4 separate regions of the Homo sapiens genome follow, and all the other regions are linked to region 3. The links come from fine-mapping of genetic effects on gene expression. A gene starts in region 3. Each other region holds a variant in brackets. All regions are shown on one strand. Distances are between the middles of the regions.

Region 1 (8,108 bases), 24 kb before region 3:
GTATTTTCTATCATGATGTAAAACATAAAATAATAAAATAAAAAACTCTCATTCTTGTTTAGGAAGACTAAATTTAGAACTGCTTTACATTTGAAGCATTAGTTTTGGGGAAAATTTCACTATTATTTAAATTATTTATTCTGTTTGTGTTTAGCATCCCTAAGATGTGGACAAAACAAGGAACTTCTGTGAGATGAGCCCCTCGTGTTCTTATCACCCAATGGCAAGTGGCCTTCACGGGGCAGCTCCCTTCACTCCTGCGCTCCTCCACAGAGGCGCCAGGTGCCCTTAGGCTATAAGGATTCAAATCAAAACAGGACAAGCTTTACAAAGCTCCTGGTATTGGGCACATATTACAAATTACTCTATTTTATAACAGGAGTATACACAGTGCTCTGAGAACAGAGAAAGAGGGAGTAACTCAGCCAGGGGCTTTGAGAAGTCTTTCCAGGGAAGGTGATGTCTTTGAAGGATGAATAGAATTTCACCAGAGGGAAAGCCTTTCTGCAACGGCAGGCTAATAATAAATATAGAATTCAAAACCCAAGGTTCTACATGAGTAGGAAAACACAGAAAAGGAAAGATAAAAATATCGAAGAAGGAATACAAAGTTTTGGAAAAAGGAGAGAGGAGCTATAAGAAAAAAAGAAAGGTGACTTTAAAAGGAAGTATGTGGAACTGAACATGGGATGGAATTCTCTGGTAACATTACTAGATTGAGGAAGAAGGAAATTACCAGTAAAGTTGTAGTTTCAGAATTATAGCTAGCAAGCAAAATTCGGTTTCTACCAATGAGAATGCCAAACTCCTGTCCCCCTACTCCCAAACCCCCAGAGCTCAGGTTCACTGCCAGCTGCACTCCAGAGCTTTGTACCTGGCACACTGCTTACCCATTCTACTGCCTTGTACCCGGGGACTCACTGCAGGTCTCTCCTCCCACCAGGTTCCTCATCTCTTTAAGACAGTGCTTGGCCCCTTTCCATCATTACTTCCCCTATAGGACCTGCTATGCTTTGCACATAGTGGTGTTAAAACCACTGTTGAATTGTAATTTTTTTTGAGACGGACTCTCGTTCTGTTGCCCAGGCTGGAGTGCAGTAGCATGATTTTGGCTCATGGCAACCTCCGGCTCCTGGGTTCACGCAATTCTCCTGCCTCAGCCTCCTGAATAGCTGGGATTACAGGCATGAGCCACTGCGCCTGGCACACTGTAATTTTTTATTTAATTAAAACAAACAAACAAACCAAATACAATCACAAAGACCCACAAGCCGATTTCTATTCTAGAAGGAGTAAAAATTCAGTTACATTTAGTCACAAGAATGATATATATCAATAGACTAATACAGTATTCATTTTTTTTAACTTCACAAGAAATTTTGGACAATAGTTTTATGTTTTGGTGACTAATCACATGCTTATCTTTTCTTCATTATTCATTTAATAGCCATTATAGCAAATTGCTAATATTTGGTAGTTCTGGAAATAATTTACATATACCTCCAATTATCAGCATATTACATTCAACATTTGCTGTATCAGGCATAAGGTATTTAAACACATCATTACAATTCTACTCCTGCACAAGATTAAGTATGTGGATGTAAGTTACTTTCAAATTCTTTAAACAGAAAAATAATCTGGTTGTGTTAGTCTTAAGAACATAGCTCAAGGTCTGTTCTTTTACCCCTGTGTTTGAGCTTTACTTGGTTACAAAGTGGTTTCATCAGAAGAAAATGTGTTTACTGACTGCCACTGGAAAAAGTGTGAAAATATAAAATATTCTCACTGGTTTTGAGATTCCTAATACTGTATATATAATATACTGGCCTAGAATAAGAAAGAAATGTTAACATTATGCTTAATGCCACTTTTTTGACACTATCTGAGAGGGAACTCTATGTCAACAAAACTATGACCACTCTACAAGAACAAAGTACAGTCAAATATATCTCTTCCTGAGCGCAGAGGGAAAGCCATTTTCCCGTAGGTGGATATTGAGGTTTTAATAAACAAGTGGAGTGATGTTAATAGACAATGGCTGTAAGCTCAAAATATTACATTATTAAAAATGAGCATTAGGCTGTGTGTGGTGGCTCATGCCTGTAATCCCAGCACCTTGGGAGGCCGAGGCGGGTGGATTACCTGAGATCAGGAGTTTGAGACCAGCCTGGCCAACATGGTGAAACCCCGTCTCTATTAAAAATATAAAAATTAGCCGGGCATGGTGACGGGCGCCTGTAATCCCAGCTACTCGGGAGGCTGAGGCAGGAGAATTGCTTGAACCCAGGAGGCAGAGGTTGTGGTGAGCTGAAACAGCACCACTGCACTCCAGCCTGGGCGACAGAGTGAGACTCCATCTAAAAAAAAAGGAAAAAAAAAAAGTGTTAGATAAAATTTTCTGAAACCAAAGTTTTCATTTTTGGTACATGTTAAGTGGCTCCTAACTCAAACTAACCCTACAGACTTACAGTTTATAAATTATTTGAAGATCTCATCTGAATATTATTTTGTTTAAAAGAGATGGTCTGTTATAATAATCCCTCTAAAAAAATCTCTAAGGGGGCCAAGCGCAGTAGCTCACATCTGTAATCCCAGCATTTTGGGAGGCCAAGGCGGGAGGATTGCTTGAGCCCAGGAGTTCAAGACCAGCCTGAGCAACACAGTGAGACCCTGTCTCTAAAAAAAAAAAAAAAAAATTAAAAATTAGCTGGGTGTGGTGCTGCATGCCTGTAGCCCCAGCTATTTGGGAGCCTGAGGTGGGTGGATCACTTGAGCCCAGGAGGTCGAGGTTGCAGTGGGCTGTGATTATGCCACTGCATTCCAGCCAGAGTGACAGTGAGACCCTGTCTCTTAAAAAGACAATCTCTAAGGAACAGAACAGAAGGGCTTTGAATTGCAGTGGGTTCAAAGTTCTTAGGGGTCTTTGACTCTGTCCGTGGGAAATCCCTCAAGGTAAAGAATTGGCTTTCTACTCAGTCTAGAGCTTGTATGGGAGTGTAACTTCACATCCACTGGTGTTTAAAACAGGGGTCCCCAAACCCTTGTCTGTGGCCTATCAGGAACTGGGCTGCACAGCAGCAGATGAGCGAAGCTTCATCTGTATTTATAGCCACTCCCCATCGCTCACAATACCACCTGAGCTCCACCTCCTGTCAGATCAGTGGTGGCATTAGATTCTCATAGGAGCACAAACCCTATTGTGAACTGCGCATGCGAAGGATCTAGGTTGTGCACTCCCTATGAGAATCTAACGCCTGAAGATCTGTCCCTGTCTCCCATCATCCCCAGAGGGACCCATCTAGTTGCAGGAAAACAAGCTCAGCGCTCCCACTGATTCTATATTATGGTGAGTTTCATAATTATTTCATTATATAGTACAATGTAATAAACAGAAATAAGTACACAATAAATGTAATGTGCTTGAATTATCCTGAAACCATCCCCCACAACCCCAGTCCGTGGAATAATTGTCTTCCATGAAACCAGTCCCTGGTGCCAAAAAGGTTGGGGACCACTGGTTTAAAATGTATGAAAAGTTGGGGTGAACTGAGCACTACTTATGAAGGATTGCCTAAAAGACAAGCCCTGTATCTACTCTTCTAGATATGCTAAGCTGTGTCTGTTGGATGTGCCAAGGACCTGCAATTTTGGTTACCTGCAAAATGCTTTCCTACTGTGGCCTTGTGCTACCAGCCAACGTGACAGGATGCCAGAAGCACAGGCCCTTTGAAACTGTTGTACTTATGCTGAGGATGCTGCCCTTCATTGAAAGAGCATAAGAGAATGTCTTCCGCTTTAGCACCAGAAAGAGTTACAATTCTTCTAAGAAAGTGGCTGCTTCGGTATCACAGACACTCTGACTCACATTACTAATCATGGTCCTCTCCCTGCATAGGCTGCTGGGAAGCTCAGAACCAGACCTGAGGCCGTGCTCCTGGCTGCTTACTGTCCTGCCTTCTAACCACCCTTTTGCTTGGAAACCTCATCCCAGGACTTATTTTGGTTTTCCTATTCTTATTTTCCTGATTTTTCTTACTTAACACACCCACAAACAATTCTGATCTGTGGTTAAAA[A/G]TATATCGAAATTCAGAATAAAATTAAATGCAACTTGTTTTCAAATAAACTATGGGAGTATAAACTATATACTGAGAGACATGATAGGGTTCTAAAATTTCTTACTGAGAATTTGGAACAACAATGTTAAATGATGGTAAGGTTCACAGGGCAGTCCAAGTAAATTTAATTTAACCATGCTGCAGCAAAATGACAGTGTTAAGAGAAGTCACTCCCAGCGTAATTCTATACTCATGTTAAAAAAGAAATTCTTATTAGAGGATTTGTGTTTAAAGAGACATCATTGATTATCTGAATTTGTATAGGCACTGGATATATTAAGTCAACTAACAAATCATAAGCATTTAAATAGGAGTAAGTCCAGGGGCCTTGTAAATAACCCATAGTTTATTCAGTCAGTTGACTTGTTCTTTTTTCCTTACATAAACAAGTAACAGGGTGATTTAATTCAGTGAGAGTGGTGAAGTGAATACAGATCTGTGAAGAACAATAAAATGTTAATTTTATGATCCTGTTTATTTTGCTGAAGTTTCTACATGATAGGAAACAAATGCAAATTTTGACCCAGGGTCAGTCCTTACTATTTCCAGCAGCAGAAAATGAATCTACTAGGATACCTGAATTTTATAAGCAAATCCAACCTATTTCATATAAACATAATAAGGTCTTGGACACAGTTATTCATAGTCCGAGACTATTAACTGGGCTCTCATTCAGCATTTATGCATTTGAAATCTACCTAGTCAAATTTTCTTGACAAAATGTTAGCCTCTAAAGGAAGAATTCTGCTTCTGATAACCCATTATGCTACTTTTACACGCATGTGTTAAGCAAGCAGCAGAATCAGATTTGGAATTTAGAAAGATATTCTTTCCGGTGGCAATAGGCAGGATGCCTGGCAGAGCAAAGAACAGGAGGTAGATAGACCCGGAGGGGGCTGTACAAAATGCAGACAGAAACTGATGAACCAACAAAAAGCAATCAACTCGTGAGACATAAAGAAGGTCCGGCAAGGGAAATAAGTGAGAGAACCTGCTGGGCATAAGGACCTACTGACTACGGTAAAGTAAGGGGAGAAAGTGAAGTGACTTCCAGCTTGCACAAGGAAATACTGGGATGATGAGAGGCAATGCTGGAGTGTTGAGTTTGCCTGAAGGATTAGGTTGGGGATGGGTTAGGGATGATGTGGAGTTTTAGTTTAGATACGAGGTGTTGGTAGCATAACCAGAAAATGCCCAGGAGGCCCCTGGAAAGGACAAATGGAGGGGAATCACTAGAGCACACAAGGTTGGAGCCATGAGTTGTGGGCATCTAGGGAGGGTGTGGGAAGGTCAAGATGGAGTGCAAGGGGCCTCCAATGTCAAGCGGAGCCAAGAGAGGAGCAGACAAGGAGAAGGTGGTGTCCCGCACGCTAGGGAAGGAAGAAAGAAGCTGGAGACTGGTTAATTGGGCCAAAGATACAATGAAGGAAAGTGACAAGAAGGAAGGTGGCAGGCCAGACTGCAGCAGAGTGAGGAGTGAGGGCAGCTGACAGCCGGGAGAGTGCACAGACCATTCCCACCAGCTGCAGGCTGTCAGGGTATCACTGACTTCCTAATCGGCACAGGCCACATTGGTCTTTTCCCAAGGCTCTTCCAGACCTGCAGAATCTGGGTTTCTGCTCTATGAGGGTCCCTGAGCATAGGCCCTTAAAAACATTCTCACCACCCCCATAGGGAACAGTACCTGGCCATGGCGCAGAACAAGTGCATGAGAGGACAGAGAGAGAAGGGAAGCTGATGCCCCCGGCAGGGATGCTCATGCTGCCTGCCGCAGCCAATCAGGTGGAACCCAGGGCCTGTGGTCTAGGATCTTTCCTTCCATTAAGGTAAACAGGGCAAAATAAGACTCAAAACACCACAGGCTTCGAAGACATCACCTTTCAGTACTCCACCTAGCTCTGCCAAACCTAGCCTCAGCTGTATCCTATTGCTGAAAACTCTCCTTACAGTACATCCAACCTTTCCAGGCCTTCTCTACGTCTGCTTGTTCCCTGACTCACTCTGGTAAAATCTCACCTCCTATCTTTCCTTTCTCTTCATTTTTTCTGCCATCCATTATTACTACTCTGCAGAAGTATTTACATTAACACTACTCCCCCTCCTCTGCTGACACTTTGGAATATGGCATGTACCCAAGTTAATTTATTTTCAATGTATAAAACTGTACCCTTTGTGATAATATTACCTTAGGATACTCAAACACAATACAAAAATATTTACTTAAGAAATCTAAAACAATAGCAGCTGGGAGAAATATCTATTAAAATACCAACTGTGAAATGACAGTTGTTAAGTATCTGTTTTACCCTGTTTTAAAAGAAGAGCACACCAAGGGTTTTGCCAAGCTGGGGAGGAGTGGAGTTCCAAAGACAAGACATCCTGGGCAAAGTACTCAGGGGCTTCCGTCTCCCCGCAGACAGGTCAACTGAGGATTGTAAACCCGCAGCAGTAGTATCCAATGTAGGTCCCAGCTTTGTGAGCATGGCCAGGGAAAGAAAGGACTGCTAAGAAAATGAAAATAATTATTTAGGGAGTAACAACTAAAGAGTCCACATGCTGACCTGTAATTTAAGTCAAGGGGAGGCAAGAACAGAAAAAGCTTCACTGAAACACCAGCAGCGCCTCAATGGCGGGGGCCCACTTGGAGGGACACTGGAACGCGTCAGTCTTATTATCACTTACATAAAGAAGCACATCCAAAAATGCAAAAGGAGGTGGAAGCAGGGAATGTACCTGCCTGAACCAACGTGGAATACGGGGAAAAACGTTGGCTTTGGAGAATCCGGTGTTAAGCTGGCTCCATACCAACTTTGTTATTTTAGGTTACTTCTATTCTATGAACTGCAGCTTTCTTGTTTGCAAAATGGGGGAAATTAAAAGTGCCTGCTTAATAGAGTTTTTATGACAGTTAAATAAGACAATGCAAGGAAGGGCCTAGTATGTGTCCGGCCCATGGGAGATGGTTAATAAAAAAAAAGAGCTGTTATGATTGTATTTGTAAAATGAAGTAAGAATCCTCATTTCATAGTGACTCTATACTAAATAAAACAATGCATATTAAAGTCTATAACATACAGTGCGTGACAGACAGCATGTATTCAATCAATGTTAATTCACTCTGAAGCTACCTTTTCTTCTCAGTCTACCAAATAATAAGGGATTTGTGTAAGTATGGAGGAGAGATCCCTAAGGCAGTAAACAGTCTCGTAGGCAAGTACAGACTTTATTAGCATTACAATGGTTTTCATCAGAATTTGAATGAAACCAATTCTTCCAATGCTTTTGATCCCTGGAATCAGACTGTAACTTGGCCTCAGTATAGAATTTTGTACAGCATAGGCATTTATGAGACCACTGCCTCCAGTGTATTCAGTGATCAAAAGTATTGGAAGTTTCTGCTGTAACATAAATCTTAGTAGAACATAAACTCCATGAAGGCTGAAACTTGATAAGTTCTATTTCGCTGATGAATCTCCAGTGCCTAGAACAGTGCCTGTTACACGGTGGAAGCTCAGTAAACATTTGTTAATTGAATGAATATGGTTCGCAGGCATATGTTATATATCAATATCAAAAAGTTCCTGTCCACAAGGATTAGAGACAGGAAAACAGGCCGTGGAGATAACTGGAAGTAAAATGGTGATACATCGTGCCATTGGCCTGACTCAGAAATATTGGAGATTCTAATAGAGGCCTTCATCTTCTTTAGCAAGGCCCTAAGATCCTCCAACCTAAATAAGAAACTCCCAAACACTCCCGGCCATATTACTACTACCTTAATCTGTAAGTGCTTTACAGATTACAAGGCCTTCACACACACATTGTCTCAGTTATAATTTCCTGGCTTGCTTACACTTTTTTTTTTTTTTTTGAGATAGAGTCTCACTCTGCCACCCAGGCTGGAGTGCAGTGGTGTGATCTCGGCTCACTGCAACCTCTGCCTCTCTGGTTCAAGCGATTCTCCTGCCTCAGCCTCCTGAGTAACTAGGA
Region 2 (8,108 bases), 530 kb after region 3:
CTGCCCCCCAGGTTCACGCCATTCTCCTGCCACAGTCTTCCGAGTAGCTGGGACTACAGGCGCCTACCACCATGTCTGGCTAATTTTTTGTATTTTTAGGAGAGACAGCATTTCACCATATTAGCCAGGATGGTCTCGATCTCCTGACCTCGTGATCCGCCTGCCTCGGCCTCCCAAAGTGCTGGGATTACAGGTGTGAGCCACCGTGCCCGGCCTCTCTTAGCAAGTTTTAAGAACACAATACATTGTTACTAACTATACCCACCATGATGTACGATAGGTCTCTAGAGCTCACTCCTCATGTCTAACTGAAACTTCACACCCTTTGACCAGCATTTCCCCATTCTTCTCACCCCCGGGCACTGGTAACCACTATCCTACTCTCTGCCTCTATAAAGTTCAACTTTTTTACACTCCACCTATAAGTGAGATCATGCAGTATTTGTCTTTCTGAGTCTAGCTTATTTCACTTAGCATAATGTCCTCCAGGTTCATTCATGTTGTTGGAAATGTATTTTTTAAGGCTGAGTAGTATTCTGTTGTGTTAGTGAGGATGTGGAGTATATATATCACATGTGTGCATATACCACATTTTCTTCATTCATCCATCAATGGACACTTAGAGTTTGATGGCATGTCTTGGCTACTCTGTATAATAATGCAACAAATGTGGACGTGCAGATATTTCTTCTAGATACTGATTTCATTCCTTTGGATATATCCCCAGTAGTGGGATTGCTGGATCACGTGGTAGTTCTATTTTTAATTTTTTGAGGAACCTCTAAATTGTTTTCCATAATGGCTGGTCTAACTTACATTCCCACCAACAGTACAAGGGTTCCTCTTTCTCCACATCCTCACCGACACCTGCCTTTGGTCTTTTTGATAAAAGCCTTTCTCAAGGTGTTAGGTGATACCTCATTTTAATTTGTAGTTCCCCGATGATTAGTGATGTTGAGCATTTTTTCATAAACCTGTTGGTCATTTGTATGTTTCATTTGACAAATGTCCATTTAGGTTGTTTGCCCATTTTTGATCAAGTTATTTGCTTTCTTGCTGTTGAGTTGTTTGAGTTTCCTATATATTTTGGACATTAACCCCATATAGGATACATGGTTTACACATATCTTATTCCATTCGGCAGGCTGTCTCTCCACTCTGTTGTTTCCTTTGCTGTGCAGAAGCTTTTTAGTTTGATGCAATCCCACCTGTGTTTGCTTTTGTTGCCTGTGCTTTTGGGATCATGTCTAAAAAATCATCATCAAGGCTAATACCAAAGAGCTTTTTCCCTATGTTTTCTCAAAATGGATTAAAGACTTAAACATAAAACCTGAAATGTAAAGCCACATTCCATCATTTTAATCAGTCCCTGGCAAATACTTACAACTCATTTGCCCTGCTTGTCGCTCTCATGCTTGCCTGGAAAAATCCCTCCCCTGGTGTCTGCATCTCTGCACCCACCCACACGTGTGAACCCAAACAGCCTGGAGACAAAGCCCAACCAGTGCCAATGGGTGTCACTCTGCGTTGCTGACTGGACCTCAGTGGCCCCTAATTATTGCCAGCCAATCCCACTGCAGTTTATTAATCAGCTGGCTCCTCCTTTTCCTGGATACCAGCTCATACTCCTCTGTCCTGGAGCCTCCAATGCTCCTTCCTCCTGCTCTCACTCGAGGGGAGCTGGGTCCCATTCCCAACTTACCTGGGACATGGAAGCTGTCAGAAGAGAGTGCCTTTATGCTCCCGTACCTCACCTCCCGTTTCCTACACAAGTCACTGGGTGTCTACCACAGCTTGTGTCCCCCTTCGTCTATTCCAGGATTTCACTCAGCCCTTATCCATTTTAATAAGTCTGATATGTCCACACTTTGAAACTGCTTGGCCTAAAGAGGGTGAGGCTGTGCTTTGATGCCATGAGAATTTCCTGAGCAGCCTTCTCCCGCCTCCTGTGGGGTCTGCAAGGGAAACCTGAGCAGGAAACCCCAGGCACCAGAGGGACGTTCAGCAGCCACTTTCAGTAAAATGCCATTGCCTAACAGCTTAATTACGAGCTGAAATGAAAAAAACAAATAAACAAATAAAACCCTAACCTCCTTTTCTATGCTTAATTCCATTCCTAGTGACCTTCTTTGATGGAAATAGAGAAATTCTGTTGTTGTATTGAAGAAGTATCAAATTTCCCACATGTGCATTTCAGCTTCTCAGAACTCATGGTTGCCATGGGCTGTGGTGCAAGCTTATCTGCCCCTGGCCCACACAATGTCCAATGTCATGTCATGGGACCCCTGCCACTTTGTGACATAAAATGTAAGAACATTGAATGCTACTGGCTGGGTACGGTGGCTCACGCCTGTAATCCCAGCACTTTGGGAGGCCAAGACGGGCGGATCACAAGGTCAGGAGATAGAGATCATCCTGGCTAACACAATGAAACCCTGTCTCTACTAAAAGTACAAAAAAATTAGCCAGGTGTGGTGGCATGTGCCTGTTGTCCCAGCTACTCGGGAGGCTGAGGCAGGAGAATTGCTTGAACTCAGGAGAGGGACATTGCAGTGAGCCAGCATTGCGCCATTGGACTCCAGCCTGGGCGACAGAGTGAACTCTGTCAAACAAACAAACAAACAAACAGAAAACACGTAATGCTACTTTGAGGCTAATGTAGACAATATGTGTTTCCCTGCCACAAGCCAGCCTACATTTGGCTGTGCCAAGGTAGAGGGCAGGAGCTTGCCTGGAGTAGGCAATACTGTGGGATCCATCAGGAAAGCCACCCCCTGGTCTGCAGAGGACTGTTCTGTGACCGAAGAGCTTACAGGAAAGGTCAATGTCGACTCAAGGTTAACTTAGGTCATTCAGTGTGTTTTGACTGAGAGTTTATCACATATTGGGTGCAGTCCTAGGCAAGTGAAGGTAGTGTCACTGTCAACAAGGATGTCACAGCCCTGCCCTCATGTTGCTTATATGCCAGTGGGAGGGAAACATGAAGACAGATAAGCAGGCAAATAACTATGTGCAATTGTAGTGGGGGCTGTGAAGAAAATGAGCATAGGCCTGAACCAGAGTGGCAGTGGTTGCATTTTAGGGGTATTGGTCAGGAGAGTGTCTCCGGAGGTTGACATTGAAGCTGAGACCCAGTGGATGAGAAGGGGCCACTTGAGTGGAAGACATCATCCTGGCCAAGGGCAGACCCAGAACAAAGACCCGAGATGAGGCAGAGATGGGTGATTATGAAACAGAAGACCCATCAGTGTGGCCCCTGGAGCAGAGGGACCAGGGAGAGGCAATGCAATGAAGCTGGGGAGAAGGGCCTTGCAGCCAGATGAGGAGTCTGGATTTCAATCTCAGAGAAATGGGAAGCCCTTGGAAGGTTTGAGAAAGAGTGAGCCATTGTCTGATTTGTCATCTAAGCAGTTTAGTCTTGCTGCTTTGTGTGAATGGATTCAAGGGGGTAAAAGTGGACATGGGAGACCAGCTGGAGGAGGCTGTAGTCATGGGGGTTGGAGGTCAGGGTGACTGGGACTAGGGAGGGAGAAGAGGACGGAGTTGAGATGGGTTGATTGGATGCAAAGAATAAGGGAGGGGTGGCATCAAGTATGGCAACTGTGTTTTAGG[G/A]CCCATGGATCTTGGTGTCTGGCAGAAAAAGCTGGAGGTGCATGAGTTTTAGGGGTGGGAGTGGAGGTGATGTTAAAGAAAAATTACACTAGACAGAGTTTAACAGGCCAGGAAGACTTTATTCCAGACTATCGCAATAGGAAAGGAGACTGAACTCAAGTCCAAATGCAACAGGGGCAGCCATGGATTTATGGCCAGCAGACAGGGTGAGGGGTCACTGGGCAGAAAATTACCAAAAGGAACTTGGTTAGGCATCAAGAGTGGGGAGAGTCTCACCAATCTGGGCTTGGCAGGCTGAGGATGAGGCCTAATCTAGAAGAGAGCTGAGTAGGGCCTGACTCAGGTTTCACCAAGGAGGGGGTGTTAGTTCGTTTTCATGCTGCTGATAAAGACATACCCAAGACTGGGAAGAAAAAGAGGTTTAATTGGACTTACAGTTCCACATGGCCAGGGAGGCCTCAGAATCATGGGAGGAGGCGAAAGGCACTTCTTACATGGCAGCAGCAAGAGAAAATGATGAAGAAGCAAAAGCAGAAACCCATGATAAACCCATCAGATCTTGTGAGACTTATTCACCATCAGGAGAATAGCATGGGAAAGACCAGGCCCCATGATTCAATTACCTCCCCCTGGGACCCTCCCACAACATGTGGGAATTCTGGAAGATACAATTCAAGTTGAGGATTTGGGTGGGGACACAGCTAAACCATATCATTCTACCCCTGGCCTCTCCAAATCTCATGTCCTCACATTTCAAAACCAGTCATGCCTTCCCATCAGTCACCCAAAGTTTTAATTCATTTCAGCATTAACCCAAAAGTCCACAGTCCAAAGTCTCATCTGAGACAAGTCAAGTCTTTTCCACCTATGAGCCTGTAAAATCAAAAGCAAGCTAGTTACTTCCTAGATACAATGTGGGTACAATTAATTGGTAAATACAGCCATTCCAAATGGGAGAAATTGGCCAAAACAAAGTTACACGCCCTATGCAAGTTCAAAATCCAGCAGGACAGTCAAATTTTAAAGCTCCAAAATGATCTCCTTTGACTTCAGGTCTCACATCCAGGTCACTCTGATGCAATAAATGGGTTCCCATGGTATTGGGCAGCTCCGCCCCTGTGGCTTTGCAAGGTATAGCCTCCCTCCTGGCTGCTTTCACAGGCTGGCGTTGAGTGTCTGCAGCTTTTCCAGGCAAATGGTGCAAGCTGTTGGTGGATCTACCATTCTGGGGTCTGGAGGATGGTGTCCCTCTTCTCACAGCTCCACTAGCCATGCCCCAGTAGGGACTCTGTGTGGGGGTTTCAACCCCACATTTCCCTTCTGCACTGCCCTAGCAAAGTTCTCCATGAGGGCCCTGCCCCTGCAGCAAACTTTTGCCTGGGCATCCAGGCGTTTCCATACATCTTCTGAAATCGAGACAGAGGTTCCCAAACCTCAATTCTTGACTTCTGTGCATCCACAGGCTCAACACCACATGGAAGTTGCCAAGGTTTGGGGCTTCCATCCTCTGAAGCCACAAGTTGAGCTCTACGTTGGGCCCTTTAATCCACAGCTGGAGAGGCTGGGACACAGGGCACCAAGTCCCTAGGTTGCACACAGCACAGGGACCCTGGGGCCAGCCCATGAAACCACTTTTTCCTCCTGGGCCTCCAGGCCTGTGATGGGAGAGGCTGTCCTGAAGGTCTCTGACATGCCCTGGAGACATTTTCCCCATGGTCTTGGGGATTAACATTAGGCTTCTTGCTACTTATGCAAATTTCTGCAGCCAGCTTGAATTTCTCCTAAGAAAATGGGTTTTTCTTTTCTATTGCATCATCAGGCTGCAAGTTTTCTGAACTTTTATGCTCTGTTTCCCTTTTAAAACAGAATGCCTTTAACAGCACCCAAGTCACCTTTTGAATGCTTTGCTGCTTAGAAGTTTCTTCTGCCAGATACCCTAAATCATCTCTCTCAAGTTCAAAGTTCCACAAATCTCTAGGGCAGGGGCAAAATGCTGCCAGTCTCTTTGCTAAAAGATAACAAGGGTCACATTTGCTCCAGTTCCCAACAAGTTCCTCATCTCCATCTGAGACCACCTCAGCCTGGACCTTATTGTCCATATCACTATCAGCTTTTTTGCCAAAGCCATTCAACAAGTCTCTAGGAGTTCCAAACTTTCCCACATTTTCCTATCTTCTTCTGAGCCCTCCAAACTGTTCCAACCATTTGCCTATTACTCAGATCCAAAGTCGCTTCCACATTTTAGGATTATCTTTTCAGCAGCACCACACTCTGCTGGTACCAGTTTACTGTATTAGTCCGTTTTCGCACTGATAAAGACGTACCCGAGACTGGGAAGAAAAAGAGGTTTAATTTGACTTACAGTTTTACATGGTTGGAGAGGCCTCAGAATCATGGTGGAAGGCAAAATTTACTCCTTACATGGCAGTGGCAAGAGAAAATGAGGAAGAAGTGAAAGCAGAAACCCCTGATAAACCCATCAGATCTTGTGAGACTTATTCACTATCACGAGAATAGCATGGGAAAGACCGACCCCCATGATTCAGTTACTTCCCCCTGGGTCCCTCCCACAACACATGGGAATTCTGAGAGATACAATTCAAGTTGGGATTTGGGTGGGGACACAGCCAAACCATATCAGAGGGTATCCTTGTAAATGAAAAGGGGAGGACTTAGGCTCTTGTTGGGTGTAATAAGTTTGAGATGTCCAAGAATAGATGTTGAGTACATGCCTCAAAATGTAAATCTGGAGCTCAGGGGACAGTTCTGGGTGGGATATACAAATTTGATCATGACTATAAAGATGGTTTGGGGAAGCTATGACCACCACTGAGCTCTCAGACCTGTGATGTAGAGTCTGACAGGCCAATGCCAGCCAGAGCTTTTAAATCCTGTATGGAATAATTAAGTACATAGCTATGGCTTGAATGTGTTCCCCAAAGTTCATGTGTTGGAAACTTAATCCCCAGTGCAATGATATTGAAAGGTGGGACCTTTAATAGGTGATTAGGTCATGAGGGCTCTGCCTTCGTGGATGGATTAATGCCATTTTCAGGGGGGGTGGGTTAGTTATCTCAAAAATGGGTTCCTGATAAGAGGATAAGTCTGGCTCTTTTCCCTTCTCTCCCTCTCTCTCCCTTTCTCCCACCATGTGATGCCTTCAACCATGGGATGACATAGCAAGAAGGCTCTCCCTAGATGCCAGCACCTTGATATTAGACTTCCCAGCCTGCAGAACTGTGAGAAATAAATTTCTTTTCTTTATAAATTACCCAGTCTCTGGTATTCTGTCATGGCAGCACGAAACAGACTAAGACACATACCGAACAGGTTTTAGTCCCCCACCGCAGAGGAAGCAGGGCCCAGTCATTCTCCTGCCTCAGACTCAGAGTCCTTATCACATGAAGGCAGGTAGAGACTTACTAAGGACTGGCTTCTTATAAAGAAAGAAAATTCTCTTGCCCCTCCTGGGTGTTAACTGAATGAGAATATTTCTATTGTAGTGATGCTTAAATATATGTAATTATATAATTAAGTATAAATGCTGTCTTAATCAGTTCAAGCTACTGAAACTAACCACCATACACCAGGTGGCTGATGAGCAACAGAAATTTATTTCTTACTATTCTAGAGGCTGGAAGTCTGTGATCATCAGGGTGACAGCATGATTGGGCTCTGGTGAGGGCCTGCTTCCAGGTTGCAGCCAGCCAACTTCTCACTATGTCCTCACATGGCCAAGAGAGATTATCTCTCACATGTCTCTTCTTACAGATGCATTGTCTTAGTCCACTTGTGCTGCTACAACAAAATACCTGAGACCAATAATTTAATGGTGCATTTAAAAATAACTAAAAGAGTATAATTGGAATGTTTGTAACATGAAGGATAAATGCTTGAGGGAATGGAGACCCCATTCTTCATGATGTGAATATTATGCATTGCATACCTGTATTAAAACATCTCATGTACCCCAGAAATATATATACTTACTATGTACCCACAAAAATTTAAAGTTTAAAAAATTTTAAAAATAAACGAAATACCCGAGACTGGGTAATTTATAAAGAACAGAAATTAATTTTCCCACAGTTCTGGAGGCTAGGAAGTTCAAGATCAAGTTGCCAGTGGATTCAGTTGTCCAATGACCATCCAGTCACTGCTTCCAAGTTGGTGCCTTATTGCTGTATACTCCAGAGGTGAGGATATTGTGTCCTCACATAGCAGAAGGCTGAAGGGCAAAAGGGATGAACTTCCTCTACCAAGCCTAATGTAAGGGTGCCTAATTCCAAGCAGGAAGAAGGAACCCTCATATCCTAATCACTTCTTAAAGGCCCCACTTCTTAATATTATCACATTGGCAACACCTGAATTTTGGAAGGGACACATTCAAACCATAGCATTCCACCACTCCAACCCTGGCAACCCAAATTCATGTCCTTCTCACATGCAAAATACGTTCATTCCATCCCAATGGCTCCAAATCTCTTAACTCATTT
Region 3 (8,108 bases):
GTAAAAGAATGACACACAGCAATGAGACCTGTTTGGCTGGTGGGAGGGATGGGAGTGGAAGCTGTGGGATGAAGAGAGTTGGGAAAACTTTTGTTCAGAGAAGGTGACAATTGAGCTCAATCTTGAAGGAAGAGGGGGCACTCTAGACAGGAGTGATAAAGGGCCTGCTGGATAGAACAGTACTTGTAAAGGCCTGGAGGCCCAACAGGACGTGGCACATTTAGGAAACTGCAACTGATGATGACAGAGGACAGGATGCACATGTGGGACTTAGGCTGAGACTGGAGGAGCAGACAGGGCTCCTGCTATCAAAACGTGGCCTATATTATAGGTCTTGCAAGAGAGTTCCAAAGTATTTATTTCACTACTCTAATTACTTAAGGCACAATTCGCAGGTCATTAAAAAACGTTTACTAGTCTGCTTTTGATTGCTTATTCAGCACTACCTGTGTTAGTTTTGATAGGTAACTTAAGCTCCCTGTGCCTCAGTTGCCTTACAGGGTAATACAAATAGTACCTACCTCACAAGATTATTGTCAAAACAAATGTGTTAATAGACATGAAGAACATAAGATAGCAGTGGCACACAGAATTGATAGTGGATGTTGTGTTGCTATTGATTTGCCATCAGTGACAAACAGCTGCAGAGATTAGAGAGGAGGGAAGGGACTTTTCCTGAAATTCACAAGACACAGCCTTAATGTAAAAGGACGTATTTTTATAACAAGTAAGTTTATCTAGGGAGGTAATAGCAGGAATGTCGGTTTTTAGGTCTATGATCTCAGGTAACAGTATAAAATGATTATCAGATTCCTTTGGATAATATATTTATATTTGGATAGTAAATTTAGCTTAAAAGTATATGCTTAAGGTATAATTTGATCAATTATTTTCTGAATGCATATGATCTTACAGTTGCCCATACTGAAACCCATTTTCAATTTTCTGCCTTTCAGGTAGAGTCTTGAATGATTTTCCTAAAGTTTGAATGATTTTCCTGTTGAGTTTCGTGAATGATTTTCCTGTTCAGTTGGCAATTACTCATTTGAAAACGCTTGGGCCTCATTTGCTCATAAATCATTTCCAAAGAGAATTTCAGAAATGGAAGGGTCCTTAGAGATTGTCTAGTCCAACAGTCTATTTCATAAACAAGAAAACTGAAATACAGAGATTGAGAGACTTGTCCAAGTTAGTCTTCGAGGGCTCCACCTTGACTTTCTTACATGCTCTCACATAAACCCTCTCCCTGCCACTTTCCTTAGTGTGTGAACTGCCTGCTGATTCCAAGTCCTTGTGTATCCTGAGTAAGCTTTAATGACAAACTATTTTACTCCAGACTATGGTGAAATCAAATGGTTTCTATTTATTTAACTTGCATATTTCATGTGTTTCCTCAACAGACTTGGTTAAGTACTTGGTGCTAGGTGTTTGGTTAATTCTTGCTAAAATTCCACCAGTATGCTTATTATTACACTCTTTATTCTCCAAAGTCAAAGTCATTAAGTAAAATCATTCTCTCCCGTGAAATTTAACCACTTAACTGGGTGGATACAACCTCAGTGGTATGACCCAGATGCTGTTTTCAAATTTGCAGCATGAGTATATTTTCCAGGCGGGTTTCTAAAAATTTGAGAGTCATTGCTTAAGAGGCTTAGCGTTCCTGTCCTCTGACAGAGGTTGTACTGGGCAGACCCATCTCAGGGCCTGCCAGCTCACACACGTGCTGGAGGGGGGCCTACCTAACCAGGTGTGTTCCAAGGGTAGGCTCTGCTCTTATGACATCCAATCCACAGTCTGGCCAGTCACCTAAGTGAGGCTTGAGGTAAAGAGATGAGTTGATCCAACCAGATTCTTTCTCATGGGAATATGGCTCAAACTCAGAGAGAGACAGGTAGTTAGTAAAAACAAAACAAAACAAAAAACAAATCTAAAAAAAAATGCAGAGAGAGAATCCATAAGAAAATGATGGGTCAGAACCAGCAACACTGTGAAAGCAGAGGCTCTGAATTAGAAAAAACATACAAAGAGTAACAATAAAAGACTCATAGGCAAATAGGGGAGTGGGGAGGCGTGAGAAAAAGTGAATGTGTTATATTAAAGATGTGAGTTTAGGCCCTCAATATCCTGCTGTCAAGGTCCAGTAAGCGGGATCTCTGTCTGGTGAGCCAGGAGAAACTGAGGTTTCAGCTCCAAAGCTTGTGAGACCCTTTTTCCTTTTCCGCTACGCATTTCCACCATACCCTAAATAGAATGGATTCTTGCAACCAAAAGAACTCATTACGACACCTAGGAAATTTTAGGGAGGTGCTAGAGTGTGCCTTCAGCTTTGTCGCAGTGTACTACTCACTGGCCACTTCCACTCTCAACTCTTCCAGTGCTCAAGGGAAGTTTTACATATGCAACACACTGGCCTTAACTTCACAAATGACTGATTTCCATCCCTTTTTTCTCTTCTGCAGAAACATAACACTAATCATGCTCCTAGAATAACTACCAAGATAGCCTTTAGGGGGAAAACGTCACAAGACATGAACGTCTCCCCTGGTAGAAAGAAAGGCTCCTCCCCGAGGTCTCAGAGGCCACACCTGTAGGCAGGAGCACGCTTTTCGATGGCGGAGCCCGGTCCTTGCCTCGCAGCCGCCGGCAAACCACGGTGGCTCCCAGTCCCCGGGGATATTCCGCGTCAGCCCGCACCCCCGGTCCCCGGCCCCTGGCCCCCCGCCCCCGGCCCCCGGTGCCCGCTGGGTCACCTGTAATTGTAGGCGCTGAAACGCTTGCTCTCTCTCAGCATCGCCCGGTACAGAGATAACACTTGTGCGCGACTGGAGGCTGCCATTTTGGAAAGAAAAAAAAATAAACGGGTCCTCTTCGCCGAGGTCCCAAGTACGACCCAACCCACGAAACTCCAGCCTGTGCGGAAACCACGAACGAAATAAAATGCTGCGGCTCGGCTTTGCCAGCGGGCCGGGCCTAAGCCTAAGCGGGCAGCCCTGCGGATCGCGGACGGCGCCAGGCGTCCCGCGCCGCTTCGGGGGCGGGCGCAGGCAGGGCTCGGGGCAGCTAAGGGGGCGGTGCTGGGAGGGAGATGCCTCCGCCCCGCCCCGATCCCGCCCCCGCCCGGAGGCTCGGGACCCAGCAGCCGCTCCACGCGGCGGGAGGGCGGGGAAATAAGAGGACTGGCCGCCCGTGCATCCAGCCAAGCTCCTGGCGGACGGATATCGGAGGCCCAGGCATTCGAGGGACGTGCAGTTGCATCACGGAGAGCCTTTGGGAACCGTCTGGGGTCTTGGCGGAGACATTTGTGTTTCGGGGGCAGCGCCCCTTCCTACATCCAGGAGGCCGCGTTGCCCGGGTTACCGAAGGCCGCCGCACCGACGCCCCGCCCCTGACCGCCGATGCCCCTCCCACGCCGGCTGCGGTCGCCCTCGGCGCTGCCTGAGAGAGTTTGCGGGATTTCAAGGGTGACTTGATTTCGCCTGATCCTGGTCGGCAGGGTGGGGTTTCTTGGCATTCCTCAGGCCGGGGGATGCGACGTCTGGGTGTGGAGGTGATGAGCTAGGGGTTCTGTGGCACTCCGGCTCTGCTCAGGGCGACCTGCGTAGGGGCCTCTGGGGCAGGCCCGCTTTCTGTCAAAATGGCAGCGCCCAGCGTGCGCGGGTATCTCTGAAGTTGGGGTTTAAGATTCTTGCCCGTGAGAGCGAACGAGCCTGCCGTACTTCTGATTTTGAAACACCTGGGTCTGGGCTTCCCGGGCGAGCGGTGGGTGAGTGCCGGCCTCATTGCAGCCTGGGGTACGACGTGGGCGGTTGGTGTTGTAGGGGGTTTACATTGGCCGTGGATTTTTTCCTCTTTCCGGATGTGTTTTTGCTTTTGAGTGAAGAGTTCCCGTGGTTTTGTAACCTAATAAATGCATAAAATGCAGCTTGGGTTGTAGACTTTGGAGAATAATTAGAGACCTTTAGGGCTTTAGGCTTTCTCCAAGAAGCGGAGCAAGTTTTCAACCATGGCTTTCTTCAGAAGACTGCAGCTTTTTTGAATCATCTTATTAAAGTGGTGGATAAAGTTGCTTGTTCTGATCTTTGAGCATGGCACTGGACGCAGGAAGCTTCAGCCAGTCCTAGTTACTGTGTTTGCAAAGCACTTTTCTTGTTTTTGGAATCTTGCTTTATGTAATCAACCTTAGGAAGAACCACACCTTTCTGCACTCAAGCACAGCGAGAAGTACGTTATGCGTGAAAACAAAACAACTTTGCATTAAAATCCATCTTTCTCCGAACCACTTGGTCACGGTTGTGTTCTCATCTGCTTTAGTGTATTTGGTTTTGAAACGATATACCTGCTGTATGTCTAAACAACTTTATATTTTCAGGAACTTTTCTGTTTCCTTTTCTTTTTTTTGAGATGGAGTCTCGCTCTGTCGCCCAGGCTGGAGTGCAGTGGCGGGATCTCGGGCTCACTGCAACCTATGCCTCCCAGGTTCAAGCCATTCTCCTGCCTCAGCCTCCTGAGTGGCTGGGATTACAGGCGCGCGCTACCTCGCCCAGCTAATTTTTGTATTTTTAGTAGAGACAGGGTTTCACCATGTTGGTCAGGCTGGTCTCGAACTCCTGACCTCAGGCAATCCGCCCGCCTCGGCCTCCCAAAATGCTGGGATTACAGGTGTGAGTCATCACGCCCAGCCTCTATTTTCAGGAACTTTAAAGGCAGAAAAAACACTTCTCTGACCTTACCATTCTTTAGTGTACTTGCAACCTGGTGTCCTTGCATCCAGATATTCTTACTAATCCTGATGCAATGACATTTTTTAAAAGGCACTGAAGAGAAAATACTTTTATTAAGATATCTTTAAGTCTCCTCCCTGATTTCTTGAAAATCTCATGTCTGTTATTGTTTATTATTATTTTTTAAACAGGATAGCAAAACTTCTATTACTTCCTGGTTGGTCAGGTCATTGAGCAAATCTAGCCTCTGCTTTATTGAAAGGACTTTTTTGAGTTTTCCCTTTGCTATTTCTTAAAGGATCCAAGACCAAGGCAATTGCACATTGTTATAGAGTAAGATTCAGAGCTGATTTCTCTTGATACACTATTGTGTGCCAGTGATATGAAATGATATGCGGCACCTCAAAGCTACAACATTAATGCAAGTTACTGATAGAGAATGCTATCAGAGTGAAAAGGAAAAACTTGAAGATTATTTTGGCTTTTTTAAAAATAGCAAAGATTACATTATTTTATTATATTTTGCTTTTGAGAGTAAAGTTGGAATAATTACTATATACAATTGTTTCTACCTAATTATCAAGGAATTTAATCATTAACGTACATAATTAATGTATCTAAATTACTCAACTTTGTTGTAATCAAATAAAACTTTTCCAAATAAATATGTATAGTTTAAATAGTTTGGGTAGCTTAGTCCTCTGTTAGTACGAGCAATGGTTGCAGTTAGGAAAGTGATAGGCTTCCCAGTTAATTCTGAGCCAAGTCTTCATAAAAATACCTTATTATTTTATTTAAAATGGTTTACCAATGTGTTGGACATCATTGCCTGGAGAGGCTAAAAGAAAATAATCATTCCGTAGCTACATCTCACTTTTGCACATCTTCATTGCGGAGATGACTTAAAAAAAATAACTCGATTTGAGATTGTAAGTAGATTTGGGCCAGAAGCTGAAGAATGGACCTTACACATACGTCCTTTAATAGTCATTCTATTCTGGGTTGAAATTTTTCTTAGAGAGTATCTGTAAAACAGGAGGTACCATTTAGGCATCAAAACGTAAAAATTTCTTTAGTATTCATTTATCAAAAGTTATCGACTACCTGTAGTTCTTTATGGAAGATCATGTGTTACCTTCTATTAAAATTAGGGTTGTTAATGACCACTTAATGCTTTGTGAAGAGAAATTTCTCTAATCATAATAAACAGTGTAACAACAATTTACTGTCCTTAAGCTTAAATATCAAAATGATGTATAAAGTAAAATTTGTATAGTAGTAGTAACTTACGATATTATTTAGAAATTGTTCAGCTGGGCATGGTGGCTCACACCTGTAATCCCAGCACTTTGGGAGGTTGAGGCAGGTGGATTGCTTGAGCCCAGGAGTTTGAGACCAGCCTGGGCAACATGGCAAAACCCCATCTATACAAAAAATACATCATAGCGAAACCTCACCTCTACACAAAAAATACAAAAATTAACTGGGTGTGGTGGCATGTGCCTGTAGTCCCAGCTACTTGGGAGGCTGAGGTGGGAGGATTGCTTGAGCCCTGGAGGTTGAGGCTGCATTGAGCCATGATCACATTACTGCTCTGTAGCCTGGGCAACAGAGTGAGACCCTGTCTACCAAAAAGAAAAAACAACAACAACAACAAAAAGAAATTATTCTATTCTACACCACACATGAATCCAAGTATTATACATTGATCCTTCATTTTAATAGAACACGAAGGGGAAGGGGGAAGACCTTAGATATCAACTCATTCATTTGTACAGATGAACAAACTGAAGACTTTTTCCTCATTCGTTCATTCCTTCAGCATTTATTGAACACTTCCTAAGTACTATAGGTTATGGTTTTTCTTTTCTTTTTTCTTTTTTTTTTTTTTTGAGACAGAGTTTCACTCTTGTTTCTCAGGCTGGAGTGCAATGGTGCAATCTCGTCCGGCTAATTTTTTGTATTTTTAGTAGAGATGGAGTTTCACCATGTTGTCCAGGCTTTTCTTGAACTCCTGACCTCAGGTGATCCAGCTGCCTTGGCCTCCCAAAGTGTGGGGATTACAGGCGTGAGCCACCGCGCCCGGCCCATAAGTACCATATATTATATAAGATGATATAGTCACAGTGATGAGAGCTTCCCCACCCCTAAGAAACTTGTAGGTGACTAGATAAGCGAAACAATAATTTATTTTATAGAGACAGGGTCTCTGTTTACTAAGCTGGAGTGCAGTAGTGCTATCATATCTCGTTGTAACTTCAAACTCCCGTGCTGAAGTGATTTTCCTGCCTCAGCCTCCTGAGTAGCTAGGCCTATAGGCTCATGCCACCATGCCTGGCAGATTTTTAAGTGTTTTTTTTTTTTTTTGTAGAGATGAGATTTCACTATGATGTCCAGGGTGGTCTCAAACTCCTCAGTGCCTCTCCTGTCTTGGCTTCCCAAAGAGCTCAGATTATAGCTGTGAGTCGTGGCACTTGGCCAATAATTTCTTTTTGACAGTTGCTGCGATATGAGTAATATTAGTAAACGCTAAAGGAATAGGGAAGAGGAATATTGAACCAGGAGTTTCACCTATGGGAAGGCTTTCCATCGTAGAAGGTGTTTCCAGAATGAGAAGTAAAAGCCAGATGAGGAATGTGGTTAAAGATTGCAGTGTATATCCAAGCATGGAGGAAGAAGGGTGCTTGATCTATTTAGAGAACTCTTAAGTGTTTTAGAATGGTAGGAGGTGGGAAGGGAGGGACCACTGAAGTGTTTAGCCCTGTACTAGCTTTATTTTAGTGATGTTTTCTCTCTGTCTGGAATAAATCATTTCTTCCCTTATGCATTGGCTGAGTTATATAAGTAGAACTTAACAGCTGAGCTGTTGAAATGGAGATTATTTATTCAGGTACTGATAACCTTTTGTTTCAAATCATGACTTTGAATCCTATATTCCAGAGGCACTGAAATGTTATTTATTTACCTGTGCATTCAAGAGATAGCTGGCAGCCTAGCAATTTAAGTTACTGTTGTTGTGGTAACTTGAGGGCGATATATAAATCAAACACTGATCCTGTTTTCCAGAAGTTTATACTTTAAATGCATTTGTATATGATTAAAATAAGGTATTAGGTTGGTGAAAGTAGCTGCAGTTTTGACCGTTACTTTTAAGGGTGAAAACAGCAATAACTTTTCTACCATCCTGTACAAAGGGCTGCTGAAGCGTTGTGGGGTCTCAGTGCAAGGAGAGGTCACTTCATCCCTGATGCTTGGGCCACACCTCAGACCAACAGCAGTGCTAAGGCCCAGGCTTCAGATAATTTTGTTTAATTTTTTTTTAAAATTCTCTCCATGATTGGGTAGAGCCAGGGCTGAGAAACATTGACCTGAAGGAATTAGGGGGCT
Region 4 (8,108 bases), 150 kb after region 3:
TTTTTAGAGGAAGCATTGACAGCCGTCATTGTCTTTAGTCCTCATAAGAATAATTTGAGGCCTAGGATATTAGAATATTTCTCTGAAAACGGTTTTGTCTCATTTTGCTGGCCAGTTAGAGGAAGTATGTCTGGGATTGCCTTAGATCATCTTCGTAGCCTGAAGCTCTCTCTATTGTTCAGAAAATGTGATACCTGACTGCAAGTCTACACAAGGACTGGTTTACTTTTGTGCTCATCCTCATCAGGGGGATGAGTCTTTTAGGGACTCAAACACCCCAGCTTGGTTCCACAGCAAAGCTTTCCCTTTTGTCTCACTTCCATGGTAAGCTGTTACAACCCATGTTCAGGTTTTCAGTTGATAGGTTAGATAGGCAGATACTCTCAATGCTTCTCTCTGGCTTTGTGCTTACTTTATTTTTTATTTTTATTTTTTAATTTTTTACCCCTGGCTTCATGCTTCCTGTAGAGTTCAGTCACTCCTCTCTATCTCGGTTTTACTTCTTCAATGCTGTTAAGAATTTCTGTATTTTTTTCAGTAGCATTTATCAGGAAGTTTGGTTCTAATTATCAAAACCAACATTACTAGAAATGGCAGCTGACTCATTCTTTTATTAAAACATTTTTTATGTTTGATTATGGGACTTTGGGTGGGAAGAATGATACATTCATTTGCTCAGTTATCCCTTTTGAGCCAATCTTCTACCAAGTAAAGACCTGCTGTGTCACTGACCAGAAAGTTACTTTATTTCAGTGGTAAAGCAGCTTATGACTAATGATAGCTGTGGTTAATAATCATGAAGACAATAATGAGGAAAACTTATTTAGCCATTGGAATGTGCCAGATACTCTGTATTTTTTATATATTATTTTGTTTGTAATAAAATCTACTAATTTACTATTATTATTCCCACTTTATAGATGATTCCCTGAGGCTTAGCTACTGTATCACTTGCCTAAGTTTACACAGATAGTAAGCGGCAGAAACATGTTTGAGGCTCTGCCTTGAGCCTTGGAGATACAGGACTAGCAAATTCCAGCTTGCTTCCTACCTTCATGGACCTTACAGGATTTAATTCCTCGACACTGTGGGATGGTCAGGGATGTAATTTTAGAATATGAAAGCGATTCACTAGTATTTCCACTAGAATTGAGGATAATGTCTCTTGTTGGGAACTGACTATAAGTTCATGCAAATCAAAAACAGATTAGCAAAGATCAGAAGAGTGTCTTAATTCTCTAAAAACCCCCCATACCATGTAGCGTAGTGTTTTCTTCAGAGTTGTACTAAGTGAATGTTAATTTCATTACGTTTATTGACAGGACATAATGAGTCTTATTCCCACATTATAACTTTTTAGAGTCAAAAGATTCTTAGCAGAATTTTAAAGTTATCTGATATAGATGGGCCAGGATATTTTCTTTATTTATACTTTCCTGTTGGTTTACAGTTATTTGCTGGTATAAAGGATGGAGAAAGCCTGCAGCTCTTTGAACAAAGTTCTCGCTCTGCGCATAAACAAGAGACACACACCATGGAGGCCGTGAAGCTTGTAGAGTTTGATCTTAAGCAAACGCTTACCAGGCTCATGGCACATCTTTTTGGAGATGGTAAGTGCTCAAACACAGGTTGACGATCTCTTATCTGAAATACTTGGGACAGAAGTGTTTTGGATTTGGGTTTTTTTTTTTTTTTTCATATTTTGAAATTCTTTTTTTTTTTCCCCGAGACGGAGTCTTGCTCTGTCACCCAGGCTGGAGTATAGTGGTGCGATCTCGGCTCACTGCAACCTCCACCTCCCGGGTTCAAGGAATTCTCCTGCCTCAGCCTCTGAGTAGCTGGGATTATAGGCGCCCATCACCACACTTGGCTAATTTTTATATTTTTAGTAGAGACAGGGTTTTACCATGTTGGCCAAGCTATTCTCAAACCCCTGGCCTCGTGATCCGCCCACCTCGGCCTCCCAAAGTGTTGGGATTACAGGCATGAGCCACCGCGCCAGGCCTGAAATTCTTGCATATACATAATGAGATGTCTTGGGGATGGGAGCCAAGTCTAAACACGAAATTCATTTGTATTTCATATACACTTTACGCACATAGTCTGAAGGTAATTTGATATAATATTTTAAATAATTTCGTGCGTGAAACAAAGTTTTGACTGCGATTTGACTGAAAATCTTAATGAGTTCAGGTACGAAATGTTTCACTTGTGGCTGCAGATTGGCACTCAGAAACTTTTAGCTAGAGAAAGAAAAATGATTATAACGTTTGCTAAGAATGATAATGGATTAGGTCAGTCTCATCAATGGAGTGAAAATATACAGGCTGATTTGGAGTATATTATTATGTTATCATTACATGAGGACGTGATCAGTGGAGCAAGGTTCTTTTTTTTTTTTTTTTTTTTTTTTTGAGACGGAGTCTCGCTCTGTCTCCCAGGCTGGGGTGCAGTGCAGTGGGGTGATCTCAGCTCACTGCAAGCTCTGCCTCCTGGGTTCACGCCATTCTCCTGCCTCAGCCTCCTGAGTAGCTGGGATGACAGGCGCCCACCACCACGCCTGGTTAATTTTTTGTATTTTTAGTAGAGACAGGGTTTCACCGTGTTTGCCAAGATGGTCTCGATCTCCTGACCTTGTGATTCACCCGCCTCGGCCTCCCAAAGTGCTGGGATTACAGGCGTGATCCACGGCGCCCGGCCCAGTGGAGCAAGGTTCTTAACCATGTGAATGAACCAGTGGAAAACTTTACGTATTGCCATACTGATTACCACTATCAACAGGAGTATATTAACAGTATATTATATCAACAGCAAAAACATTAACAGTATATTTCGTGCAGGAGGAACAATAGTGTTGCAATCTAGACCTCACTTAGTCACTTGCCTTTATTTTTCAAAAAATATTTGTTTTCAGTAATGCCACCTTCCCCCTCCAGCTATTTTTAACTTAATTGAGATATATTTTGTTTTTTTAAATCACGATATAAAGAGAAGGTTAGTGGATTTTCCTAATTGTGACTATCTTTAAGAAATACTTACATTTCTTATCTGAGAAGACAGATGACCTACTGTGGTTAGGATTCTCCTTTACTCTCTTATTCTTGTGAGCTTTTGTAAAAGTCAGTGTTGTTGAGGTGTAATTAACATAAAGTAAGCTACACATATCTAAAGTGTACATTTTGATCAGTTGACATACAATGAACTGCACACGAACATACTCGCACAGTCTTACAAGTTTTGACGTCTTGCAAGTTCATGCCATGAAGCTACCAGCAGAATCAATACATGAACATCTTCATTGTCCCCAGGAGTTTCCTCCTGCTCACTGGCAATCCTTCCCTTCTGCCCTTACCACATCTCACCCCGGGCAACATGTGATCTGCTTTCTGGTGCCATTAATCAGTTTGCATTTTTTAGGTTTATATAAATGGAATCTTAGAATATGTGCTCTTTTTTGTCTGGCTTGTTTTACTTAAAATAATTATTTTGAAATTCATCCATATCATAGTGTATATGAGTAGTTGATTCCTTTTGTTAATCAGTATCCCATTCCACGATTTGTTTATCCATACATTCATTGATAGGTATCTGGGTAGTTTCCAGTTTTTTGCTATTATCAGTAAAGCGT[CTA/C]TGAACATTCATGGATCAGTCTTTCTGGGTCGTACGTTTTCACTCCTCATAAACATAGGTATATGTTTAACTTAAAAAAAAAAACTGCTAAGCTATTATCTGAAGGGTTGCACCATCTCGATTCCCAACAGTAGTCTGAAAATGCCAGTTGCTGTACATCTTCAGCAACACTTGATAGGGTTAGTCATTTTAATTGTAGCCATTCTAACAGGAGTCCAGTGGTATGTCAAATACACATTTGGCATTTATAAAGGACTTCTCCATATAAACAAACAGAAATTGCAACTTAAGAGAAAAATGGGTGAACATGAAGGTGGCAAATTATATATATATATATATATATATAATGACCAATAAATATATGAAAAGATGCTTGTCTTTATTAGTAATCAGGGAAAAACAAAACCACAAAGAGCTTTTTCAAATGGGAAATAATTTTTTAAATCTAACATTTTAAATCGTTGACAAAGGTGTAGAGAAATAGAGTATAGCACAAAGTTCTGGCCTTACGCAGGATTCATGGTCACCGTTCTTCCAGCTGGGACTTCAGTACTCACTGTTCTTGATTCACCTCTATTTTTTCATACTCCAGATTTCCCCTACTTATGCCTGAACTCAAATATGTATTTAAAGAGAATCTTGTTGTAATTTATTAAGCCTCTCCTGCTCTGTTTTAGCAAGGTTTTTTAGAATATCTTGACTGCCATATTGCCAAACGCATAGTTCATGTAATATATAAGAAACCACTAGCTAATCTTCTGTATTTTTAATATAAATACATTTTCAAAAAGTGCACATCAACTTCAGGATAATGTTTTTCTAGGAAGTGGGAAATGGTATTAGGGAGGGGTGGAAACCATGTTTCAAATGGATTTATAATGTTTTTTTTTTTAAACTAAAGTTAAATATGACAAAATGTTATGGTTTGATAAAACTGAATAATGAGTATATGGGTGGTTGCTATTTTCTCTTCCTGTCTCTAGGTTTGATATATTTCATTAAAATGGCGTAATATAATAGTGAAATAGGTTTCAAATAGAAATTGCTGATGTGAAAAACCTATGATAGCCAGCATCTCTTTGCTTTCATGATAAAAGAAAGGAATTGTGATATTTTAAACATTTATATCATCTGTTTAACACAAATGCAGGGAGATGGATTGAGCTGTTCAGGCCATTTTAGAGGCAGGGTGAGGTAGAAGGGATTCTAGTATTTTAAGGAGGTAGCATTGTGTCTTAACAGAAAGATTCAGGCTCATCTGAATTTTTCCATTGCCAAACTATGGAGAGAATTTTTTTTAGCATCCTCCTTATTTATGTCATCCTACATATTTCTATAATCAAATGATTTGCTGTTTGGTGAGGTTTAGAAGCTGGATTTGCACCCTGTTGCAGGCATCACAATATTGAATAAGCTAGCCATACTCCCTGTCTTCAAAGAGCCATGGAGCCTTGGATCTTGAGCTCTCTCCTTGGGAAACATAGGATGTTCTCCGAGCACACAGGCAAGGCGCCTCCTCCTGAGCCCAGCCTGTGCTCCTGGAAGGCTCCTGCTGAGGCACATGCACGCTGACACCTGGTAAGTGGGAATTAGCCTTGGGAAAGGATAAGCAAGGTGGGGGGGCAGAAGAATGGGGTGAAAAATGACAAAGCAGGTGACACAAGTACTTGTGGAGAGCAAGCATGATGCAGCACAGTCCACGGAAAGAAGGAAAGAAGAGGCAAGGGGAAGAAAAATGATTGACAGTAGACTCTTATGACCATGGAGAAACGGTAGTGTAGAATCAGAAAACTTAAAATGAAGCTCCTGTTCATCCCCTTACTCTGAAGTCCTGAACAGGTCACGTAGCATTTCAGGTCTCAGTTTTCTAACTTTTAAAAGTTGTGATGATACTTGCTTCACTCAAGAATAAAACAAGATAACGTGAAAGATGCCTTGTAAGTAAAAAATATCAGATAAATATGTAAATATGAACAAACGGAAGAAGGAAGGAAGGAAAGGAAAGTTAAGACAAGACAATAAAAGCAGGGAGCACATGACGAAAGAGTAATACGATCAAAGAGCAACGGTCATGGCTGATTCGCCTTTATCATGTCTGAGGGAACAAGAAGGAGCTGTGTACCAGACTGTGGCACCGTAGCCTTATTGGTGCTGATGGTGGCTTTCATATCTGCACCAGGAGATATTTTAAAAAGTAAGCCATGTGCTGGCCTCTGTATAGATTATATAAGCTGTCCAAGGTGTTTCAGGATATATATCTCTCTGAAAATATGGTCCTAGACTTTCCTTTGTGTTATTTTTTATATTTGTATTTGCGTAGCTTTCAAATGCAGATGTCAGGTTTCCTTACAAAAAACAATTTATGCAATATATGACTTTTCTGACTGTGATGCCTGTCCTGACATGGTGGGCATGATCCTGGCCAAGAATTAAGAATCTTAAATTTGGGCCAGGCGCGGTGGCTCACACCTGTAATACCAGCACTTGGGGAGGCCGAGTTGGGTAGATCATGAGGTCAGGAGATCAAGACCTCCTGTCTAACATGGTGAAACCCCCATCTCTACTAAAAATACAAAAAAATTAGCTGGGCGTGGTGGCACACGCCTGTAGTCCCGGCTACTCAGGAGGCTGAGGCAGGAGAATCGCTTGAACCTGAGAGGCGGAGGTTGCAGTGAGCCAAGATTGCACCACCGTACTCCAGCCTGGGCAACAGAGCGAGACTGACTCAAAAAAAAAAAGAAACTTAAATTTTAGAATAGCAGTGAACTTGTAGCTTCTTTCATTTCGGCATATGTTGCTTTATTGTTTTAAAAATATTGTCAGCCTAGACTTTTGGTAGTCAGCTTTTATTACAGATCGATGTTGCTATTTTATAAATGTTCAAATTCACTTTTTGTCTGTAAGACTGAGCTGGCAGAATTATGGAATGGAATTAAAGTTTAAAAATCCACCTGCTTGGATAATACATGTTGGTTCACACGCATCAGAATCTATCTGGGAAGAAAGCCTTTTCTTTTTCTTCTTTCCTTTGAGCCATGGTCATTTTTAACCCCATCCACACAGTGGCCAGGCATCCTGAAACTGCTGAAAGGTGCCTCATTCACACACCCTTGCCATGCCCTGGTGTGTTTCTGCCGGTTGTGTTGCCACGAGCTGTTGTTGTAGAGGTGTGTGAGCTTGTCCCCGACCGTGTTTGCCGTGTTTGTGACGTCCGCTGTATTGCCTCTCAGGGGAGATGTGAAGTGAAGTGGGAAGGTGACTGGAACCTGGGCCCATCTGATGAACTAGAAGAGTGAGAGGGTCTGTATCACAGAACACAGACAGTGCTGTGTGCTTCCTTCATGCTCACACTGAATGTTAACAATGCTTTCAGGATTCTCAGCTGTTTCTTCTGAACTCTGAAGAAAAGTGCTTTGTTCGTTTTTGTGTTTTTTTGTTTTTTTTTTTTTTGAGATGGAGTCTCACTCTGTCATCCAAGCTAAAGTGCAGTGGTGTGATCTCAGTTCACTGCAAACTCTGCCTCCTGGGTTCCCGCGATTCTCATGCCTCAGCCTCCCACGTAGCTGGGATTACAGGCGTGCGCCACCACACCTGGCTACTTTTTTGTATTTTGTATTTTTAGTAGAGACGGGGTTTCACCATGTTGTCCACACTGGTCTCGAACTCCTGACCTCAGGTGATTCACCCACTTTGGACACCCAAAGTGCTGGGATTACAGGCGTGAGCCACTGCACCTGGCCGCGTTGTTCTATTTCAGGCATTTCAGAAGCACTAATTAGTTATGGGTTTTGGGTTCTTGCTGTTGGTTGGTTTATTAATTAAGTAATTTTGCTAGCTTCTGAAAAATGTCTTGGTAAACCTATCTAGGTGCCATCAACCTGGATTAAATTTACATTAATAATAGCAATAATAATGGTAATAATGGTGACGATAGAGATAATAGTTAACAGTGTGAAACCCTGTGCTAAGCACGTTGACAAGGAGTTTTTTCTTTTGACGTGCATCTATGATATGGGTGTTACAATCTCTGTTTTTCAGATGTTGTATTGAGAGTAAAAATTAGGTTTATAATTAATTGTTAGTGCTACATTCTTCTTAAATGGAATCACATCAAAAATTTTAAGTGTGTATCACTTTAAAAATTTTTAAACCATCTCTATGATATGGGTGTTACAATCTCCGTTTTTCAGATGCAGGAACCTAGACACAGAGAAAAAGTGCCATGTAAAAATCACAGGGCTGGTAAGTATTTGAGGCAGTTCGAGCCCACAGGCTGACTTCTAAGGCCATACCAGAAGTTAGCTTTTGGATAGGATACAAAGAAATCTTATTAGTAATATTTCAGAGACTGTGAGGCCTATAAAAGCCATGATGTCCCCCTGGCCAAACAACAACAACAACAAAAATCAGGGCCAGGCCCAATGGCTCACGCCTGTAGTCCCAGCTACTTAGGAGGCTGAGGCAGGAGGATTGCTTAA

The links.
Region 1: its variant is fine-mapped to the expression of FARS2 in whole blood (TOPMed, PIP above 0.99).
Region 2: its variant is fine-mapped to the expression of FARS2 in testis (GTEx, PIP above 0.99).
Region 4: its variant is fine-mapped to the expression of FARS2 in testis (GTEx, PIP 0.91).

The regions. Positions count from the first base shown.
Region 1 is chr6:5,234,102-5,242,209 of GRCh38, forward strand. All of the region lies in intron 1 of LYRM4 (LYR motif containing 4), which reads right to left. LYRM4-AS1 (LYRM4 antisense RNA 1) reads left to right here. Exons shown (of 4, transcript NR_126015.1): 4 at 3,607-6,395. LOC124901249 (a long non-coding RNA gene) reads right to left here. Exons shown (of 2, transcript XR_007059423.1): 2 at 4,450-6,622. Among named protein-coding and RNA genes, the nearest start is that of LYRM4, 23 kb to the right of the region's middle. The variant A/G (reference allele first, on the strand shown) is at 4,078.
Region 2 is chr6:5,791,335-5,799,442 of GRCh38, forward strand. No RefSeq gene overlaps it. Among named protein-coding and RNA genes, the nearest start is that of NRN1, 210 kb to the right of the region's middle. The variant G/A (reference allele first, on the strand shown) is at 3,613.
Region 3 is chr6:5,257,898-5,266,005 of GRCh38, forward strand. FARS2 (phenylalanyl-tRNA synthetase 2, mitochondrial) reads left to right here and starts at 3,616. Exons shown (of 7, transcript NM_006567.5): 1 at 3,616-3,763. It overlaps LYRM4 (LYR motif containing 4), which reads right to left and starts at 3,053. Exons shown (of 3, transcript NM_020408.6): 1 at 2,751-3,053. The coding sequence starts at 2,836. RefSeq lists an enhancer at 2,284-2,333 and silencers at 2,544-2,853, 2,914-3,133.
Region 4 is chr6:5,403,092-5,411,199 of GRCh38, forward strand. It overlaps FARS2 (phenylalanyl-tRNA synthetase 2, mitochondrial), which reads left to right. Exons shown (of 7, transcript NM_006567.5): 3 at 1,451-1,610. Among named protein-coding and RNA genes, the nearest start is that of FARS2-AS1, 51 kb to the right of the region's middle. The variant CTA/C (reference allele first, on the strand shown) is at 3,629.